Linked DNA regions of Homo sapiens. The protein of the gene in region 3 interacts with the protein of the main gene of each other region in a pairwise test. Each region holds a gene or a part of one and is shown on either strand. Other genes may lie near its edges.

Evidence for each region.
Region 1: the proteins of KRT40 (region 3) and UACA interact in binary tests that used the Homo sapiens proteins (3 or more experiments, as listed by UniProt).
Region 2: the proteins of KRT40 (region 3) and ZNF488 interact in binary tests that used the Homo sapiens proteins (3 or more experiments, as listed by UniProt).

The regions. Positions count from the first base shown.
Region 1 is NC_000015.10:70,753,559-70,760,558, forward strand, and holds part of UACA (uveal autoantigen with coiled-coil domains and ankyrin repeats), read right to left. Parts: intron 1-7,000. UniProt on the Homo sapiens protein: Regulates APAF1 expression and plays an important role in the regulation of stress-induced apoptosis. Promotes apoptosis by regulating three pathways, apoptosome up-regulation, LGALS3/galectin-3 down-regulation and NF-kappa-B inactivation.
Region 2 is NC_000010.11:47,367,294-47,374,293, forward strand, and holds part of ZNF488 (zinc finger protein 488), read right to left. Parts: intron 1,645-7,000; 5' UTR 1,537-1,644; coding exon 514-1,536; 3' UTR 1-513. UniProt on the Homo sapiens protein: Transcriptional repressor. Plays a role in oligodendrocyte differentiation, together with OLIG2. Mediates Notch signaling-activated formation of oligodendrocyte precursors.
Region 3 is NC_000017.11:40,981,314-40,988,852, forward strand, and holds the start of KRT40 (keratin, type I cytoskeletal 40), read right to left. Parts: upstream 3,014-7,539; 5' UTR 2,961-3,013; coding exon 2,514-2,960; exon of another isoform or gene 1,816-2,513; coding exon 1,733-1,815; exon of another isoform or gene 1,151-1,732; coding exon 994-1,150; intron 667-993; exon of another isoform or gene 12-666; coding exon of another isoform or gene 1-11. UniProt on the Homo sapiens protein: May play a role in late hair differentiation.

The DNA.
Region 1 (7,000 bases), on a different chromosome or scaffold from region 3:
TCTTGGGCAGGTAAATTATTTAACTTGCATCTGAAATGATGGCAATAGTACCTACTTCTTAGGGTTGCGGTGAGGATTGAGTTACTAGCACTTAGAACAATGCCTGGGAAATACATGCTCAATAAATCTTGGCTATCAGCACATGGATTTCTCACAAGCAGTTTCTTTCTAAGTAACTCACTAGCATTTACTGAGTACTTCTAATTGGGACATTTGTATGTGCTCAAATAATTTCAAATTACTTATAATTTTTTTTGTTGCTGTTGAGACAGAGCCTCGCTCCATCGCCCAGGCTGGAGTGCAGTGGCGCGATCTCGGCTCAATGCAAATTCCGCCTCCCAGGTTCACGCCATTGTCCTGCCTCAGCCTCCCGAGTAGCTGAGACTACAGGTGCCCACCACCATGCCTGGCTAATTTTTGTATTTTTAGTGGAGACAGGGTTTCATCATGTTGCCCAGGCTGGTTTCGAACTCCTGACCTCAAGTGATCCGCCCACCTCGGCCTTCCAAAGTGTTGGGATTACAGGCGTGAGCCACTACGCCCAGCCTATATTTGGTTTTCTACAATGAACATGTATGACTTTTGTGGGACAGTCATTTATCCTAACTGGTTGAGACATTCACCTGCGCTCTCTCAAGGATACCTGGCCAGGTCCCATTCAATTACAGACAGTCCCCAACTTATGATGGTTAGACTTAGGATTTTTTGACTTTACAACAGTACAAAAGCTACATGCATTCAGCAGAAACTGTATGTACTTTGAGTACCCGTACAACTATTCTGTTTTTTCACTTTCAATAGAGTATTCGGTATTGAATTCATGAGATATTCAATACTTTCTTATAAAATAGGCTTTGTGTTAGATGATTTTGCCCAACTGGAGGCTAAGTGTTCTGAGCATGTTTAAAGAAGGTTAGGCTAAGCTATGATGTTGTGTAGGTTAGGTGTCTTAAATGCATTTCGACTTACAATATTTTCAACTTAAACTGGGTTTACCAAGACATAACCCCATAATAAGTCAAGGAGCATCTGTATAAAAATACAACTCATCGATCCTTTGCCAGTGCCTTTGGTCACTCAGCTACATCAGTTCATCTTCTGCATATCATCTTGGAGACTGTATCATTTGAAAATAAGTCAATGTCAACAATATTTAGGATTTCTGACAATAAAACAAAGCCAACAGACAAAACTGTTTGTGTGACTACAAACAATCCAATTTATTCTTGTGTTTTGGGGCTACATTTTTAAGCCTGGAAGAGACATTATCTTTTCTAATGATATAAAAGCTATATAAAGCTTTTAATTGTATTATGATTAAGGAAAATAAGGCAATGAGTATTATATCCTATTGTTCCATTTATAATTTCAGGCAGCACATTTCAACCATCCATTTTTAGGCAAATTCCCCACAGAAATCAATTTGACTTCCTTTGCATAAATAAGCACGTGCAGGTGGAAATTTCAATAATATGCTGTATCCTTTAGGTGGCAGGACAAACATTTGCAAAACTGTAACAGGACAGTAAAAGTTTCCATATGATAGTGATGAAACAATACATGTTATAACGTTCAAATCTATTATTCTTGGATCTAGTTTACCAAAGATACAAACATAAGTTAAACAGGGCTGATAAAATCAAAATTTTGCTGGCTATTAGCTAATTCTAGAGAGGAAGGGAGAAGCAGAAAGATGAACTTATAAACTCACTAATAGGATAATTTCTGAAGATGAAACTTTCATGACTAGTCAGTTCTCTCTGAACAGTGATCTAAACTTGTCAAGTAATTTAAATTTTAATTCAAGGTTTAAAAAAAAAAAAGAATGAGGCCGGGGGCAGTGGCTCACGCCTATAATCTCAACAATTAGGGAGGCCGAGGTGGGTGGATCGCCCGAGGTCAGGAGTACAAGACCAGCCTGGCAAACATGGTGAAACCCCATCTCTACTAAAAACACAAAACTTAGCCAGGCATGGTGACAGGAGCCTGTAGTACCAGCTACTCGGGAGGCTGAGGCAAGAGAATCTCTTGAACCCGAGAGGCAGAGGTTGCAGTGGGCCAAGATTGCGCCACTGCACTCCAGCCTGAGCGACAAGAGGGAGACTTATTCTCAAAAATAAAAAAAAAAAAGAATGAATGAAAACCTTCCTTTACCACAATCCCCAAGCTGCACGCCCTCTAACTCCCTATTTTCAATAGAATTCTTATTTGAAGATTTGTCTATGCCTCATCTGTGCCATCCTCTACCATAAAACCAGAATTAGTTTCCAAATCTGATGCTCCCTCAGCTGTATAATTTCACAGCTCCATACCACTGCATTTGCTCTTCTTTTGCTTGGAAAGCCACTGAAATTGTCTTTCTGGCCCAAGCTCACACTCTACCTTTCAACCTTTTTATGGGCTCACTCTACACTCTATGTGCCCCCACAGCAATTTATACCGACTTCTATAATAACTGTTAACATGCCATATTCATTTATTTTTTATATCTAGCTCTTAAAATTCTTGAAGGCTGTGACTAGCTCTTTCTAATTACAGTACAGAAATTTTAGGACATACGCTAAATACAACAGTATCACAAAAGTGAATAAGCATCATGAACCACCCAGCCGCAATTTTTTTTTTTTTGATGGAGTCTTGCTCTGTTGCCCAGGCTGGAGTGCAATGGCATGATCTCAGCTCACTGCAACCTCCGCCTCCCAGGTTCAAGCAATTCTCCTGCCTCAGCCTCCCTAGTAGCTGAGACTACAAATGACCATGCCCAGCTAATTTTTGTACTTTTAGTAGAGACAAGGTTTTACCATGTTGGCCAGGCTGGTCTCGAACTCCTGACCTCAAGCGATCTGCCCACCTCGGCCTCCCAAAGTGCTGAGATTACAGGCATGAGCCACTGTACCCAGCCCCAAATGCAGTTACTAACTCAAGACCAATCCTATTGCAACTATACCCCCAACTTACTATCCCCACCCACCCAAAGATTATTTTGAAGGAAATCCCAGACTCCAAAATATTTCTTTGAAAGATAAAGACTCAGCTGGGCGAGGTGGCTCATGCCTGTAATCCCAGCACGTTGGGAGGCCAAGGCAGGTGGATCACCTGAGGTCAGGAGTTCAACACCAGCCTGGCCAACATGGCAAAACCCTGTCTCTACCAAAAATACAAAAATTAGCCAGGCATGGTGGCGGGCAGCTGTAATCCCAACTACTCGGTAGGCTGAGCCAGGAGAATCACTTGAACCCGGGAGGCGGAGGTTGCAGTGAGCAGAGATCACACCACTGCACTCCAGCTGGGGCAACAGAGTGAGACTTCATCTCCAAAAAATAAAATGAAGGATAAAGACTCTTTATAAACACAGCCACATTACTACCACTGTCACATTTAAATGTTTCAAATAATTCGATATCATCAAGTATCCAGCTGATGATTATATTTCCTCGATTGTTTCATAAACTTTTACTTTTTACAAGTAGTTAATCAGGATCTAAATAAAGTCCATCACGGCAATTGGCTAGTATGCATTTTAATCTCTTAAATCTCTTGTAATCCATAGGTTTCTCCTCTTTTTCCTTTTCTTACAATTTATAATTTTTAAGAAACCATTTCATTTTTCCATAGATTTCCACAATCAGAATTTTGCTGATTGCATCCCTATCTTCCTTTGTTCCCTGTATGACAATAATCAAAATTATTGTATGACAATAAACAAAATCATGGTTATAGCTAAAGGGTGATTATTTTGGCAAGACTATTAATAGGTGGTAATAAGTATTTCCACCACAAGATATATTATGCCAGCTTGTCTTTCTTTTTGAGACATTAGTAGCCTCTGACAATCATGTCTATAGACTCTAGATTCATTAATTCATTAGGAGCTGTAAAGTTATGATATACTAACTCTATCACCCCTTCTTCATATATTAGCTGGGACAGAATACATGATATACTAATTACATCATCCCTTCTTCATCTATTAGTGGCAGTAAAGTATAACTAAAACAGACACTTCCTCTTATCAGCTATTTGGCTACCTTGAGATACAGTTCTCACAGGAAATGCACAATAAATGTTTTATTATTTCCCTTTATTTTCCTGATCTTGAAAGAATGCATCACTTTCCTAGCATCCTCCAAAAGTCAAGAGTTGTTTTTATTCTTTTGGTCATCATTACAAACTCATGGATTTAAGGATTTCAGTGCACTACAGTTGCTATTCTTACTGATGATCAAACTGTCCCATCTTTGGGCAACTGAGAGCCTCTTGGAGTTGGCTCCAGAGTCCTAATCTTTGACAGCCTCTTTACACTCCAGCATGACAAGGGCACTCCAAGTTCATCCTCCACACTTTCTGCTTTCAACTTGGAATTATCCATTTCTTCGAAGAGGACCTAATTAATCCATTATTGAGCCTATGTGTTCCATAAATGTTTTCCAAACTAAATAAGGCAACTGCTGAGCAAAGTCTACTTCCTGAACTAATCATTTTTAATTTGAACAATGCATATGATGTACCATAAGTATATATAATCATTACACCATCCTTATTAAAAAACTAATTAAAATCCTTTACTCATCACCTAAAGTTCCTGGACTCATTATGCACCAAAAGACCCACCAAACCACTCTGCTTTGGTATTACAATAAAATTCAGCAATTCAAATCAACATAATGTTCTGAATAAACTTGCTGCAGGGTGAGGGTTGAAATCAAAAACTATAAAAGAAGGGTTTCTTTATTGTAATCCTCCTTCAAGAAGCACAAGAAATTCAACGCAGGGATAACCATAGGAAGTTGTCTGAATACAGCTTTAATTAAGGTAAGCATTTTTAATTTAAGGTTGGAATAGTTAATGACAATGAGTAAACAGTGCTTAAGTATCATGAGTTTAAACTAAACATAACAATTTGTTATCTTATTTACATTACCCAAAAGTCGCTGTTATGAGAATAACATTAAGATCTTTTCAAATGCACCCAAATCCCTCAGTGGAAAACACAAAGCCCTCATTCTCAAAATCAACAACTAAAACAAAATCATGTTTAATCCTTTATGCTTTCTAAACATCTCAAACTAATGTTATTAGTGGAAACAGAAAATGTTTTTGAAGATTTTTTTCAGTTGCTATATTTGTAACTCTAAATTCTTTTAGAAATACCAGTATTTTTTCGCAGTGCTGAGGCATTATAGCAAGATGCTTTAAAACATATTTAGTTCTGATTTATAAAATTCACTGCCCCATTTTAAGAGCAGCCTAGAGAAAGGGCAGCAAAAATAATCACTACAGAACCTCTCAGGTCAGAGATTACTTCTACAATCAAAGTACTCTGCTACGACTTTGTTTGTTTGTTTTTGGAGACAGGGTTTCCCTCTATCACCCAGGCTGGAGTCACAGTTCACTGCAGCCTTGACCTCCTGGGCCCAAGTGATCCCCTCACCTCAGCCTCCCAGGCAGCTAGGACCACAGGCATGCACCATCACGTCGGGCTAATCTTGTATTTTTTGTGGAGATAGGATTTCACCACGTTGCCCAGGCGGGTCTCGAACTCCTGGGCTCAAGCAATCCAATTTAAAGTGGAATCCCCTTCTAAAATGTCTGCTTACAATATCTGTTTGCAGCACTTCTACTACTTCTGGAATTACAGTCCCTTAATTTATATTAAATTTCCTAAACTAGGTGAAAATGGAACAAGCATATTCTCACTATACATATAACTGAACACACAATTAACCAGATCTGGTACAGTATTTATAGTCATCTAATTATCCCTTTTAGAAATCCGAAGCTCCAACTTAGTAAGTGATTAAAAATAAATGTAACAGGCTGGGCACGGTGGCTGATGCTTGTAATCCCAGCACTTTGGGAGGCCAAGGTGGGCGGATCACCTGAGGTCAGAAGTTTGAGAACAGCCTGGCCAATGTGGTGAAACCACCTCTCTACTAAAAATACAAAATGAGCCGGGCATGGTGGCAAATGCCTGTAATCCCAGCTACTTGGGAGGCTGAGGCAGGAGAATTGCTTGAACCTGGGAGGCGGAGGTTGCAGTGAGCCGAGATCACGTCATTGCACTGCAGCCTGGGCAACAAGAGTGAAACTCCATCTCGAAAAATAAATAAATAAATAATAAATGTAACAATAAAAACACTCTTCATTTATGGTTAACAGATGCAGCCATCTCCAGATTTGCTAGTAAAGGACTAATCCACAAATGTAGTTTATCCAGAATTTGTAATTGTGAACTACATTTATATGTGTACAAACATTCCCATTTAGTAAACTCTAAATTCATTGGCATATTTATAACAATAGTACTATTCAGAATATTCAAAATTACTACTTTTGCCCATAATCTGCACATAATTCTAATTTAGCATGCTAAGCTAATATGCTGTATTCCACATATTATGTAATAAAATACTGCATATGTCACATACCTCAGTCTACTGCTGTGTCTTCTTCAGATAATAAGCTTAAATACACAAAGGAAATTATTTATGAAATAAACATTTTAAAATTTTATCTCAAATCAAAGTTGTGCAAAGTAAATAGTGACTATTTCCAAAATAATTAAATGAACAGTTTAAGACCCAAATTAAGTACCCATAGAGGAAAGAGAAGAAAGTAAGATGTACTTTAACACCATAATAAGTATCTTATGTATCAAAGACTTAAATGTAAAAAAAGAAAAAAAACTAGAAGAAAGTTGGGGAGGGGGGTTGTTTAATATTAAATATCGCAGAGTGGAAAGGCCAAGATATTACATAAACCTAAAAATCATAAAAGGTTATAAATTCAATTGTATAAAAATAACCACCTTCTCTGCACAGCAAATGCCACCATAAAAATGTCTTAAGACAAACAGCCAATTAAGAAATAATATTATTCAAATGAAAAGGGCTAATTTCCCTGATATAAAGTATATACAAATGAATAGGGAAAAATATCGACAACCCAATAGAAAAATGGAAAGGACAGGCCAGGCGCAGTGGCTCACGCCTGTAATCCC
Region 2 (7,000 bases), on a different chromosome or scaffold from region 3:
TAGTACAGACATCATCACAAACCTTGTTGACTCAGTGCTCAGGGTCTGCAGGCAGAATGCTGGCCACTTTCCACACACCTTTCATGTGACCTGAATGCCAACCTAAGACACAGTGTTATCATCTCCATTTCACAGATGAGAAAATGGGGACTCAGCAGGTTAAAGCTCTTTGTCCAGGGTCACAGCTAGTATGTGAAAGAGCCCAGATTCGAATCCAGGCTTGTGTGCCTCCAAAGCCCATGATGTGTGCCAGGAGTTGCCCCTGCTCTCTGTGCCTGTTAGGGCCTCTACCCTGGATTTGCAAAGCCCATCACTTTATTTCAGGACTTCATTTCCTTCAAAACACATCATGCAGGTGTGGCTTTTTCAAATTATGCCTGAGCTGTTTATCTATGAATGCCAAAAGCAGCAGCTCTGCAAAGGACCATGACAGCCCCCTCAACGCAGGCCCAGGGAGCCCCCCTCTGCCAAAGGCTGGCTGCTGCACCCAGCAGGTCATTCTGCGGTCACCTGCTAGCTGTGAGAAGTCATGTGCCGGGAGAGGTGGTGGCGCTCCCGGAAGTGCTCCTGGCACACAGGGCAGGCAAGGGCCTCTTCTCTCCGCTTCTGAGAATGTGGGTCAGGCCCCGCATGCTCCTTTTTGTGGTGGGATCGCATGTGAAAGACCAGGTCGGACGTTAGGCGAAAGGACAGGTTGCACTTTGCACACCAGTTCTGGGTGGACAAGCCCAGGGAGGTGAGGGTGGGTGGCAGGAGGGCCCACGAAGTGGTGGAGGATGATGAGGGTGGGGGCACCTGGGCCTGGGTATGCTCCAGCCACAGTGTAGGGGCACCCAGAAAAGTGCTACAGAGTGGAGCATTCTGTGGCAATGCTTGCAAGTTCCACAAATCACCAACCAAAAGCTTGGGAGTTGAAAGTCGACCCCAACAAGCGAGGTCTGTAGTGTTGAGGAGTCCAGACAGCTCCCCCAGGGCATCTGCAGATTCCCCTGCAGGGAAGACTGAGGTTAGCTCAGGCCTCTCTGCTGGTCGCTTGGTTGGTTTGCTAAAGGCGCTTCTTTGCTCACTTCGTGCTCCGCTGGGCCACACAGAGAAGACTTTGCTGCCAGCTGGGCCTCTGGGGATGTTCTGGGTCAGCTGTGGGGCACCAGGTTGGCCTGTGGGGTCATCGTGCTCCCTCTCCTGGGCCTGAGCATCCACCTGCCGGTCCTTCATCCTCGGCAGCTCCGTGAAGGCGCTCTGCCTCTGCTCTCCACGTGTCTTCGGGGGCAGCGGCTTGCCAGGTCGGGGCTTGCCTGGGGCTACCAACAGTGCCAGCTCCGCACTGCCCACATCCCGGCCCGCCCTGCCCACAGCAGCCTCAGGGCCCAGGCGGTTCGTCTTCTCGAGCAGCACTGGCTTGCAGCCCCGGCCCAGCTCAGGTTCGCTAAGTCGCCATCTGTTTTCAGCCGATGGGCTCAACGGGGCTCCCTTCCCAGCTGCCATGGTGATCACCAGGGCCGGGGCCACAGATAAGCAAGGTGGCCACTCTGGCATTCATCAGTCTTTGGGGGTTTGGGGTTCTGGAGGGCTTGGCCCAGCAAGGAGCCATGAGATATGGAAGCTCCCCATGACACTGGGCTGGACACACTCGGCCACAGGGCCCTGCAGAGAGAGGAAGCGACAGGCAGTGAGATGGGCATTCATCACTCAGGCACAGTGCATCATGAGCTGGCATCAGACAGGACCCTGATGCTCAGGCCTCCTCCGCTGTCTGTGGGATGGGTGTGCTGACTGCACCACCTCTCAGGAGACAAGGAGCATGGATGGCACCATCCTCCAGGGCCCACCTCCCTGAGGCAGAGTAGGGACTGAGGTCTCTGCTGAAAATGCCCATGGGCAGCAGCCTCTACAGCTCAGTAGAGAGAAACGTAGGATTCCCCTGTCAAAAGTGGTTCCTGGGGATTAACCAGGCATGAAATGGAGAGTCTGCAGGGGAAGGGAAAGAGCCTGCTCTGGGGGCTGCATTAGGGCCTTGGGGGCCCTTCAGAAGTTTCTGGGTCATCTGTCAACAAGTAGACTCCATCATGAGGAAGCCATGCACCCTCAGCCCCTGCTCCATGCTCGAGCTACCTCTGGCCCTGGCTGAGTGCTGAGGGCACAGGGAGGCCGCAGCATGAGGGTCGCAGTGTTGGAGGACCATGGACTTCATGGTCTTTGCTCCTCATGCAGCCCTCTCTGTCCCGACCCTAATTTCAACCCATTGCTCCTCGGTCTACCAGACCTGCCTCCCAGCCTGGTGGCCCCTTTGTCCACATCACATGCCCTGTCAGCTTCTGCGCGGTCTCTGATTTTCTCAGAGCCATGCTTCTTGTGAGAGTCAAGTGTCCCCACTCTTCCCCCAACTCCCAAGTACATGTGGGCAGCTTCATTCCCATCGTACCTGTGAACTCATTCCAAAATGCACCTCAGGCACAGTCTCCCCTTGAGGCTTGCCCAGTGCTCTCAGACACAGACAACACTCCCTCCTCCATGCCCTCACTGTCCTGGGCACCAAAGGCCTGCATGCACCACGTGCAACATTATATTTACTTGTTTGTGGTCTGCTAGAAGGCAAACTCTAAGAACCCAAATATGTCAATTCACCTTCACATCTGTAGTACTTAATCAAGCCTGCAACAGGACAGGAGCTCAGGAAGCCTTTGCTGAATGAATGAATGAATGAATGAATGACAGGACAGCAACTGTTAGAAAGAAGTCAACTTCCTCCTCCCAAAGAGTGTGGAGACCTGCTCCTGCACAGAGAGGAGAATGTGAGCCCTCCATATTCCCATAGGGCCAAGGGAGGAGACATCCGCATGGTGAGAAGGGCGAGGAGCCTACTGCAGCCTGCCTCTGAGCTTCTCCACCTCCTGCTCCTTCCCTGTGCTCCTTGCTGGGCACTTGGCCCCTGCCCAGTCCATAGCTCAGGCGCAGGTGGGGAAACCACTAGCTGTAGCAGAAGGGTATGCTTTGCTTTCCAACTCTGATGTAAAATCAAACTATGAAGCTCCACCAAGGGCGTCCAACCTATTCCCATTTCCTCATCTCCCCTTGGTTCCAACCCCAGTGAGAACCCACCCAGCTTTTCCTTAGGGAAATAGCCCACCAGCCTGTATTCTGAGAGCTCTCTAAGAATACAGCTGATTGGCCTGTGGGTGCCAAGAGTCACCTTAAGGGTGGAGGTCACACAAGGGCCTGGAACTCTGAAAGTACTCTCCCTCAGGCGCTGGACTAACAACAGTCTGACCATGGCTGGAAGAGGCAGGCTGAAGGGTCAGATCTGCCTAACAGGAGAGGGAAATGAGGCATGGTTTATAGTGGTGAAAGCAACAAGCAAGTAAATGCGTAACTCCAGAGACATGGTGAACAAAGCAGGATGCATACGCAAGACGAAGCACTGTGCAGCCTCGGACAGTGATGCTCGCTATGCTTATGAACGAATGCTGAGGAGGCAAAAGGACAAAAAGATTATAGATTTGGTGTAACCTATTCTATGCACACACACACACAAAATGCATACACCAAAGGAAAAACCCCAGGAGGAAACACAGAAAATGACCACCAGGTCATTTGTTCATTGATTCCCTCTTCCGTTCATTCCGCAAGCATTCACTGAGAGCATGCAGCATGCGGGCCCTGTGCGAGGCGCGGTAGTGACAGTGGTGATGAGGCAGTCCTGAGTTCAGCTGTACAGAACACAGGGACCTGCACATGTGCCAGTGTTGCAAACAGGCAATGGTGGCATCTAAACTGAGCTCTGAGGACCCAGAAGGGACTGCCCAGGGTTCACAAGAAGCTTGCATGGGGCCTGTGGTGTGGAAAACCTGAGGGCTCTCTGGGGAACTGAGCCTAACATAGTTCTGCAGTGGGAGAGTGCCCGGGGAGGGGCAGGATCCAGAAGCCAAAATAAAATGGACCTGACTGTTTTTAGAAATAAATGATTCATTTTTTAAGTGTGGCTATAAAGACTACGCAATAGTATGGGAAAAAAAAGCTTATAATACAATGTTAGTGTCAGATATAAACATGTTGTAAAACAAAACAGGAAAAAAGCCTATCTACCAAATAAACAAAAACATGAAAGAAAACATACCAAAGCAATAGATATGTGAAAAATAATTTTTACTATGTACATACACCATATAACATATAGTATACATAGTATGTATACATAATATACCATATAATACACTATATATGTAATGTGCTATATACTATGATGATGCTAGTATCATGGAATTTGGGGGAGTTTTTTCTCAACTTTCCAATATTTTCAAACTACTCTAGTCTTATTTTAGCATTTTGTTTTGTTCTGCAGTCAACTGTTTTAAAGGCGGCAGTGCCCTTTTCTGCTTGGTCGGGGTCAGAATTCTGTAAGGGATTCTCACGGCCCAGTGGAGCTGAAGCCTCTGTGACTTCAGAGATGCTACTTTCCTAACTGCTCCAGGAAATCATTCTGAGGTGAATTCCTCCCACTGTCTACTCTCCTTTGGAAAAGAGGAGTCCTAGCCCCCACGCTGGAGTGCTCTGGCTGGAGTTTCCTGGGAGCGGAGGGGCCTTCCCAGTGGGTGGACTATTTCTCATGGGGGCTTCACAGTCTGTTTCACACTGCCTAGAGAGACCCCTCCTCTGCCAAGCCTGGAACTGAGCATTCCCTGGGCCACAGGAACAAAAGGAGAGCTTTGGAAGAAGGGTGAAATGCCTGGGCACTCAGATCAGATCAGATCAGCTTTTAGGCAAAGTGCATTTCATTTTCTGTTCATTCATTCACTCAGTAAACATGCAAAAAGCACCTACTATGTGCCAGGCTCCAGTCTACATAAGACTGGTGACTCTCAACACTGACTGAATTCTAAGTAGTTGGAAATGACTGGAGAGTAGGGTGAGTGTGCAGTGTGGCCTGGAGAATGCATGTGGAGTTCAGAGTAGGAAGGTCCCCTGTGGAGGCCCAGAGAAAACTTCAGGGCTAGATGCAGTCCTGAAACAGCAGCCCTGGCCCTGCCCATGCTTGAATGCAGGAAGAGAACCTGAAATGTGGGGACAAAGAGCAACTGGCCAAGAACAGAGCCGGTGATGCTCAGGGGAGGGACACCCTCCTGTCAGCCCTCCCCACCCACCCCTTCTATGCACCAGCCTGTATCCAGTAACATGTCGCAAGGTCTTTGCTGGAAGCTCAAGCCTCCTCTGCTTTCTAAGCATGGAGAAGACAGAGACCAGTGTGAAGTATAGGTCAAGAAAAAAAATAAAGAGAAGGAGAAAACAGAGAAAATGCATAAAGATTCCCAGCTTTAAACCTTCTTCCACCTCCATCGTTGCCCCAAATTCCTCCAGGGCTCTCTGTCATGAAAATTTCAGAAAGTGCATGAGAAAACTTTGCAAATGAAGTCAGGGGTCACAGGCAGGGGAAAGTACTGGTCTCAGACTAGGCCAGATAAAGAAAAATATCAAAGACATCAGGAGAGCACCGACCTCGCCCATGGGATGCCTGCCGCAGTGAGATGCCACGCACCTGGCCTAAGTGAGAGGTGGACACACTCCCCTGGCAGCCACCATCTGGGGGTTCAACCTCATGTGTGTCCAGAGCTCTTGATGGGTGATGGAGGGATGGGCAGAGGCTGCTTCATCCCCACTGGAATCAGGCACCTCCTGCCGGGTGTTGACACAGATGTGAGGAAGGAAGGAAGCCACACCTATGGCAGACTGAGCTCTGTGGCTTACTCTGCCTTGGCGTGTCATGGGGCCACTGACCCCCATCACACTAGATTTTTCCAACCCCAGCAAACACACAGAACTCAGCCACCCTCACAGAGTCTCAAAAATAAAGGCTCTAGTGCTTGGCAAGTAAGAAATTAGGTCCATGCATGTGGCAAAAGTTAGACACAGTGAGCTTTGCTGGTTTTTCCCTCTGTTTTCCTTCCTCGGCAACATTCTTAAAAGAAAAATCAAAATAGTAATTACAACAAAAATGTCCTTGTTATCCTTCAGAGAGCACGGCACTGTATTTTCTTCACTCTAATGACTATTGCATCTATTTCCAAGCTTCAGACTATTAATAATACACAGGAATACCAAGAAGCAAATTAAAACAGAAAGGCACAAAAAGTAGAATGGGAAAGACGTGGGTTTGAATCTCACCTCCACGCATTTATTATGGAGCTTCAGTTGTGTAATGCAACTTCTCTGAATACTGGGCAATCGTGAAATGAGTGGGAACATAATGCATTTAAATAGGATAATAATATCTAGAAGGAGGCTCCCACCTCACCCGGCCCATGTCAGTGCCTCAGGAACGTTCATTTATTTCTTTGTGATCAAGGGACAGGAACAAAATGTACGGCATGGAGAAGTAAACAAAAGAATCAATGACTGTACACAGCCATGCTGCTGGGACATGGGACACCTTCTCCAAGCCCAAGATGGAGAGAGGCAAAGTCTTCCATAGACGGAACATCACTCTCCTAACTAAAATAGTTGCATTCTCAAAGATACAAAATGTGCCACTTTCTTAACTGAATAAACGCAGGCAGCATGGCGAGGAAGGACGGCCCAGCAGGCCTTGCCCAGTGTACCCTGAGAGAACACCAAACATTCTGCTCTTAGGTGCTCCATCCACCTACACTGTTTTATTCCCATGCCTTCACCAGATGTTGAAATGTGCTGCCAAATCAAACCTAGACGTAAGACAAACCAAAATAACAAGGAAAGCTTGCTGGTTAAGACTGAGAAACAGCGTGGGGTGGGCAAAAGCTAAGATGCTCGGGTATGAGTCTCAACTTCAGTGTTTCTAGATGGCCTTGGGCAGGTCCTTGTCCTTCAAAGATCTTGCTCAGCTGCAAAATGAGGAGGCTGCACCAGGTGTCCTCTATGGTCCTAAATACTATAAGGCGCCGAGTGACATCTTTATGTGGCATTATGATGCATCTTTTGTGATCAATCTGGTTTTTTAGACATTATTTTGACAAGCTAAAGGGCAAAAAAT
Region 3 (7,539 bases):
AGTTTCTTCGTCTGTAAAATGGACATAATAATTGGACATTTTTCCAGAAAGTTATTGTGAGATCTAGAAGAGTCAATCTACACATAATTAACTTATAAAAGTTAATTATGACACATAGTAAGGTGTCAATAAATGTTAGCTATGATTGTCATCAACAAACGTTCAAAGAGCAAATGTACTTTGTTACATCATTCAGCTTTTCATTTTCTAGCTTTATCAATATATCAGTGGCTGTATATTTTATGATTTTTAGAAGTTTATAAATGCGGAATATTTAAAAACACTGGTCCAGATAGTGCACAGTCTTTATCCCTTTTTTGAAATGGACTTCACAGTCTGTTCCTCAGCCTGATTTTCATACCCTGTGGACTGGAGCTAGGGGTGGCATAAAGCCTCCAAAGGAAGCCATTTGTGAAGTTACCTCCTCCACAAAGGCAAGGGCAGGAGAAGAGTTTGATTCCTTCCTCTGGCGCTGTCTAGGGGTTATTTCACACCTTAAATCAGAGACACACTGGAATGATCAGGTTGAATAGTAATAATGCCTCGAGTAGTTTTTGTTTGTTTGTTTGTTTGTTTGTTTTTTGAGATGGAGTCTCGCCCTGTCACCCAGGCTGGAGTGCAGTGGTAAGATCTCGGCTCACTGCAACCTCCGCCTCCTGAGTTCAAGTGATTCTCCTGCCTCAGCCTCCCGAGTAGCTAGGACTACAGGCGCCTGCCACCATGCCCAGCTAATTTTTGTATTTTTAGTAGAGATGAGGTTTCATCATATTGGTCAGGCTGGTCTCGAACTCCTGACCTTGTGATCCTCCTGCCTCAGCCTCCCAAAGTGCTTGGATTACAGGTGTGAGCCACCATGCCTGGCCCTGCCTCAAGTAGTTTTATTCCAGCTTAAACAACATCTGCCCAAATTCGATTTACAAACATCAACAGATCATCTGTCAATGTAAGTACGTTACTCTCGGAGTCCTTCAGCGGAGTTGCCACTTTCCTTACCTCTTCATGGTTTTTCTTAAGGCAAAGGAGATCTTCCTTCAGAGACTCCACATGGGCCTCCAGATCAGATTTGCACAGGGTCAGTTCCTCCAGGATCCCATGCAGGCTGCTGATGTCAGCCTCTAACAGCTGGCGAAGGGACAGTTCACTCTCGTACCTTTCACAGCAAAAGAGAAATCCAACGCTTACTTTGCTGAACGCTGTGCAAAGTGTGGGGATACATGGAGGATCGACACACGGACTTCAGGAAGCCATGTGCATAATTTCTCTTAATTCCTAAGTAATGATAAATTCAAGCTTTTAAAACATTCTTAACTTTAAAATATTATATAGAGAATATTTGTGTGTGTGTGTGTGTGTGAGAGAGAGAGATTGAGAGAGAGAGAGCCATAAGTTATTTTCAAATTAAAATTAAAGCCGGGCGTGGTGGCTCATGCCTGTAATCCCAGCACTTTGGGAGGCCAAGGCGGGCAGATCACCTGAGGTCAGGAGTTCGAGACCAACCTGGCCCACATGGTGAAACCCTGTCTCTACTAAAAATACAAAAATTAGCTAGGTGTGGCGGTGCACGCCTGCCTGTAATCCCGGCTACTCAGGAGGCTGAGGCAGGAGAACCACTTGAACCCAGGAGGCAGAGGTTGCAGTGAGCTGAGATAGCACCATTGAGCTCTAGCCTGGGTGACAAGAGTGAAACTCCATCTCAAAATAAATAAATAAAATAAAATTAAATTAAACTTACTTTGACTTAAAGTCATCAGTGGCCAGTTTGCAGTTGTCAAGCTGTACAGCAAGTCTAGAATTCTCTGCTTTCGTGCATAAGATCTGGGAAGCAAGTCATTATGTGATAAATGATTCTTTGAGAGAAACCTAAGTAAACTTCTATCCAACAGCTATGCCATTAGCTATCTTTTGAAAGTCTTTATAAGAAAGTATAAAATCACCCTCAGCCTGCTTTTTTTTATTAACCTTGTCACTTCATGAAGAAAAAAAGCAGAGCCAATTTAGAAACAAAATAATGAAATAAAAAGGTTTAGTTTTTTAATAACATAAGACATTTTGCAACATTCTCAGGCAGTTGAACACCATTAATGTTTTCTCCATCAGTAGTTTGTATTATGAGTATATCCTCTCCCATAATAATAGAAATTCATGGAGAGAAGAAAATGATTACTAGGTAGTTAAAAAGATGGCATTTCATGATCTGTGTTCAGATAATGTAAATGTTCAGTGTCACGTACAAAAGCGATTTTGGATATAATACAGTTTTTCTGCATTCTATAGATGATGAAGGAAAAGTCTACAGGCAAGTTACTTTATTATAGTCACTCAGTAATCAGGGGTAGCTCTGGGGCTGATGCTGAGGTTTTCTGACTTTCAGTCCGGTGCTCTCCCCTATGTATCACTAACTCTTAGAATTTTCCTTTCCCTTGGTTTCCTTCTGTAAAACAGCCCCTTCTAGTAGAAAGATAAAGCAAACCATAGATCAGGAAGGTGGAGCACTAGGGCAACAGGACACAGACCTTTTGTTGGAGATCTTCAATGGTGTTGAAGTAACGCTGATAATCCGGGCACACCATTGGGATATCCTGTTCACATTGTTCTTGGATCCTGGATTCCAGCTCTGCGTTGGTCTCCTCCAGGCTGCGCACCTTCTCCAGATAGCTGGCGAGTCTGTCATTCAGGAACTGCATCGTCTCCTTCTCATTGCTAGTGAACACCCCATCCTCACACCAGGCACAGTTCCCCACCAAGCAGGGACTATTACAACTCCCAGTAAAGTAGCATGGCAGGAGGCAACCAGTCAGCCCGCGAGACCTGGATAGGAAGCTTGGAGTCTGACATCGGGATGTAGCACAGGTACCGGGGAGACAAGCTGTTTCCACGGAGCAGCTTGAGGCAGGTGCACAACCGGAAGCCGTGCCACAGGACTCAGGAGAGCAGTGTGTGGAGGAGCAGTCAGAAGTCATCCTTCCAGAAGCAAAGACAGAGACTGGCTGCAAAACTTCAGTTGCCTTGACTCCAAAACTCTCCTCTCCTGAGAGTTTTATAACCCCCCAAAATGGGTGTTTACAGACTGCACCGGATGTTTTCTTTATCACTGATGGTGCCAGTTTTCGTACAAACATCTCATTAGAGTTGTTTATTTACTGAGGAAGAGTTTTATGCCTCATAAAATAGGGATAACTTTAGGTTACCAAAGCAGGACCCACACCATTTCCATGTGCAAGACAAAACACTTATTTCAGAAAATCGTCATAGGAAGCATTGTGCTTTTGACAGAATAATAAAAGAAAGAGAAAATTTGGCCAATGAATAATTATAGATACAACTCATTACAAATCAGGAAAATAATATGTCCACAGATTTTGATTCTGTGGATTGATTGCTTGTGTCCCCTTTTAAAATTAGTATTACAGCTCACAAAATGACAATTATTTGTTTGTGCCACCACCATAAAAATGGTCAGTGTGATTAGTAATCTTTCAATGCTTTTTGTGATCTCAGAGCATGTGCTGATAAAGACTGGAGGAGTGAGCTATATATTGGGTTTAAAGTGTGTGTGTGTGTGCAAACCATGTCTACCTGCGTACAAATGGAAAAGTCACTTTACATAACTGATAGGAATAACTTGTTTTTCTGCAGGCTAAAATATAAATTGGTTAGAGCTGGAATTATGATCTTTGATTTCCTGAAACTTGCCTTCTCCACATTTCTCATTGCTTATTGTTAGATAAGTTATACTATTTTACCTGTATTCCTAATAAGAGTGAAATATAAATTCTAAGTTATAACCTTTTAGTCCCTTGGGAATTCCTTAATGATTATACTTCAGAGTAGGGGCAAGGAACCCACAGGAATCTTTTCTTCTGAGATGTAGAGCCTGTTTTCTCCTATTTATTTATTTATGAAGGCCTGAATTTCATGAAAATTGAAAATACTGGAACTTGGAAAATAAAATTCTATTTAGGTTCCAAATCAGTAATTCCACTGGATGAAATCTCTGGTGCCAAATCTGACAGACAGGAACTTGAGATACGTAATTTTTTTGAATTATCTCTTGGATTTCACCTCCATTGTGAAGGATAATCTATTTCACTTTGCTTGGTTTTAGTCGTTACATTTATTTCATTTTCAAAGGTGCATAGAGAAAATTGTCTCTAGAATTTTTAAGAACATTATAGGAAAAAAACAGATTAATCTGAAAAAGTTAAAAAATTTTTGATCCAGAATAAACTTATTTTTTCTCCTAATCTTGAGTGCTACTTCCTAGGTACCTGATAGTAGAAACCAAACCAAACCAAACCAGAAGAACATATGTAAGTGAGTTAAAATAGTCTCTTAGGATTTATTACTCCCTGGGCAGAGCTGGGTTTGAATTTAGTGATTCTCTTTACACATCAACACTTATGCAAAAAGTTCTTAGAGTGTCTCATGGTATATTGACGCTGCTCTGCAACAAATATGAGTTCAAGGATTCAAAAACACTTCTGAAAAATTACAAATCTCTGAAAGAAAATTATCTTTTCACAGTAACCTAATGAGTCAAAAGAAAAATATCTGTGAAGAAAACCCATGTTTTGGTTGTCCATCACAGGCTCCAGTTAGCTAAAATGCAGTCATGTAAGTGCAGGTAAAATAAGAAATATTTCCTTCTGTCTGGAACTAATTTCTAATTGTAAATTATTTGTTACTGGTTATTGTCCTGCAGGTAGGACTATTTATTTTGGTCTTGATTAATTAGGTAGTGTTGTATAATGATCTATAGCTATAGTCTCCATCGTAGAATATAGAAATCACCCAGAATTCATTTCTGTGGAGTCCTCCTTAGGGAAAAGAAGTCAGGCTGGCAGGACCAGAGGAAAGCAAGTTAGTGGGTGCAGCGCACCAGTATGGCACATGTATACATATATAACTAACCTGCACAATGTGATAAATAAATAAAAAAAACCAAAAAACAAAAAACAAAGAAAGAAAGCAGGTAATGTATAAGACTCACCTTCTTCATGGTCCAGGACACATAGCCCTCCTGCACAATATTCCTGCACCCAGCTATCACCAGACCTTCAGCTGATAGAAAAATGTAACTTAGCTCACTGCAACCTTAGTGTTATCAGTACCACACAAACCCTCTTCAGCACACAGTACAAGCACCATCCTGTAAAATCTCCAGCACGCCTTTGTCTCCTTGCAGACAGCCCCTTCTCTGCTGTGCTGCCCATTGCTTCCTTGCAACGTATTTTCATACGTTCTCTAATATATCTGCCTTTCTTTACCTACAACTATCTTGATAAATTCTTCTTACCCCCATGCCACCAGCCCCAGATAGTTGCTAATCACCCGTGACAATTTCTATAGCATATCATCACCAGAAGAAAGGAACATTGGGAATAGAGAAAAAGAAATAGACATCATGAAAGGCCATGATAAAAAAAAAAACCGACAACAACACGGTAGTTTATTTTGCATAATACTATGCTCTTACCTTACAACATCCACCTAGGCTGCCAGAATCATTTTCCTAAAATACAAACCTGCTTTTTGTCGCCTTCCACTTATGGAATGCAAACTTTCTACCTTGGCAAATATGACCTTCCCTAACCTGGTGCCAATTTACCTTTCTGGGCTCACTTCCTGATGTTCTGTCTCACAAACCCTAAGCTCCAGCCATCCTTCAAGCTTCGTAGGTACTATTTTCTTGGTCAAATGCTCTTCTGCTATTCGTTTCCTGGATGAACTCACATGTCAAGACTCAGCTGAAACGTCGTTCAACTGCCTCATGTGGAGATGTGGCTCCTCCCAGAGCACTTTGCACGCATCTCTGCTATAGCAGTTGTCTTGTTGCTTTTAACATTTGTGCGACAGGTTATAAGAGTTTACATGAGGCCTTAAGAAATTTGGCTCAGGGCCAGAGCTAGTATCCACGTGCAGCAACTTGGTTGATTTTCACTGTTTTGGGCAACAACCTAAATAACTTTTAACAGTGCCTGGGAATGTTCAAGGGTCAGCTCGGGTTCAAGCTGCAGGGGAAACACACAGCTGGCTGGGCCACAGGGTGGTCAAGGTAATCTGTTTCCCAAGGCAAAGAAGGAAGTGGAGGGATGATCTGGGTGACCCTACAACATGATCAATCATATTGAATAACTTGGTCACTCTACATTATCCTTTATGTAAATTGTTTTATTCAGTTAGTTGATAGGATTAGCAAATGGATTTCCACCCCCATCTATGTTCTTGAGAAATATTTCCTGTAAATTTCTTTTCTTCTAATGATCTTGTTAGGTTTTGGTATCAAGTTACATACTGGGTTCACAATATGACTTAGCTCTGCGTCCCCACCCAAACTTCATCTCAAATTATAAACCCCAAATCCCCACGTGTTAGGGGAGGGACCTGGATGATTGGATCATGGGGGCAGTTTCCCGTATACTGTTCTTGTGATAGTGAGTTCGTTCTCAGGAAATCTAATGGTTTTGTAAGTGTGTGACAGTTCCTCCTTCCCACGCTCTCTCTCACCTGCCCCCATGTAAGAAGTGCCTGCTTCCCCTTCCACCATTATTGTAAGTTTCCTGAGGCCTCCCCAGCCATGTGGAACTGGGACTCAATTACACCTCCTTCCTTTATAAATTATCCAGTCTCAGATATTTCTTTATAACAGTGTGAGAATGGAGTAATACTGTTCATAAATTAAATTGGGAAATGTTTCCTCTTTATTTCATGAAATTCTGTAAGATTAGTGTTATTTATTCCTTAAATGTTTGATGGAGTCCAGTGAGGCCACCTCTTCCAGGAGTCTCCCATGTGAAAAAGTTGTGTTTTGTTTTTAACTAGGAAAAAAAATGTCTGGGCGCGGTGGCTCAAGCCTGTAATCCCAGCACTTTGGGAGGCCCAGGCAGGCAGATCACTTAAGGGCAGGAGGTTGAGACCAGCCTGGCTAATATGCTGAAGGCTTGTCTCTACTAAAAATACAAAAATTAGTTGGGCATAGTGGCGAACACCTGTAGTCCTAGCTTTTCGGGAGGCTGAGGCATGAGAATTGCTGAAACCTGGAAGGCAGATGTTGCGGTGAGCCGAGATCACACCATTGCACTCCAGCTTGGGTGAGAGTGAGACTCCATTTCAAACACACACACACACACACACACACACACACACACACACACACACATGCACACACACACGCAAATATATGTATATTTGCTGACCTCTACATCAAATTGCTTACCTCTACTTATAGAAACCTCACAATGCTATTCAGTTGTTCTATTTCATTTTGTGTGAAAGTTGCATTTTTCAAGGAGTTTGTTCACTTCACCTAAGTTGCAAAAATACTGAAATAAAGTTGTTCATAATAATCCTTATCATGAATTTTAGTATCTGCAGTGTCTATAAATTCTCACTATTTAATTCCAGATATTGGTAATTTGTGTTTTATCTCATGCTTCCCCCATCAATCTGGCTTGATGTTCATCAGATTAATACTAATGTATTGTTTATTTCAAGGTTGCTGAAAGAGTAGATTTTTGATGTTCTCACCATAAAACAATG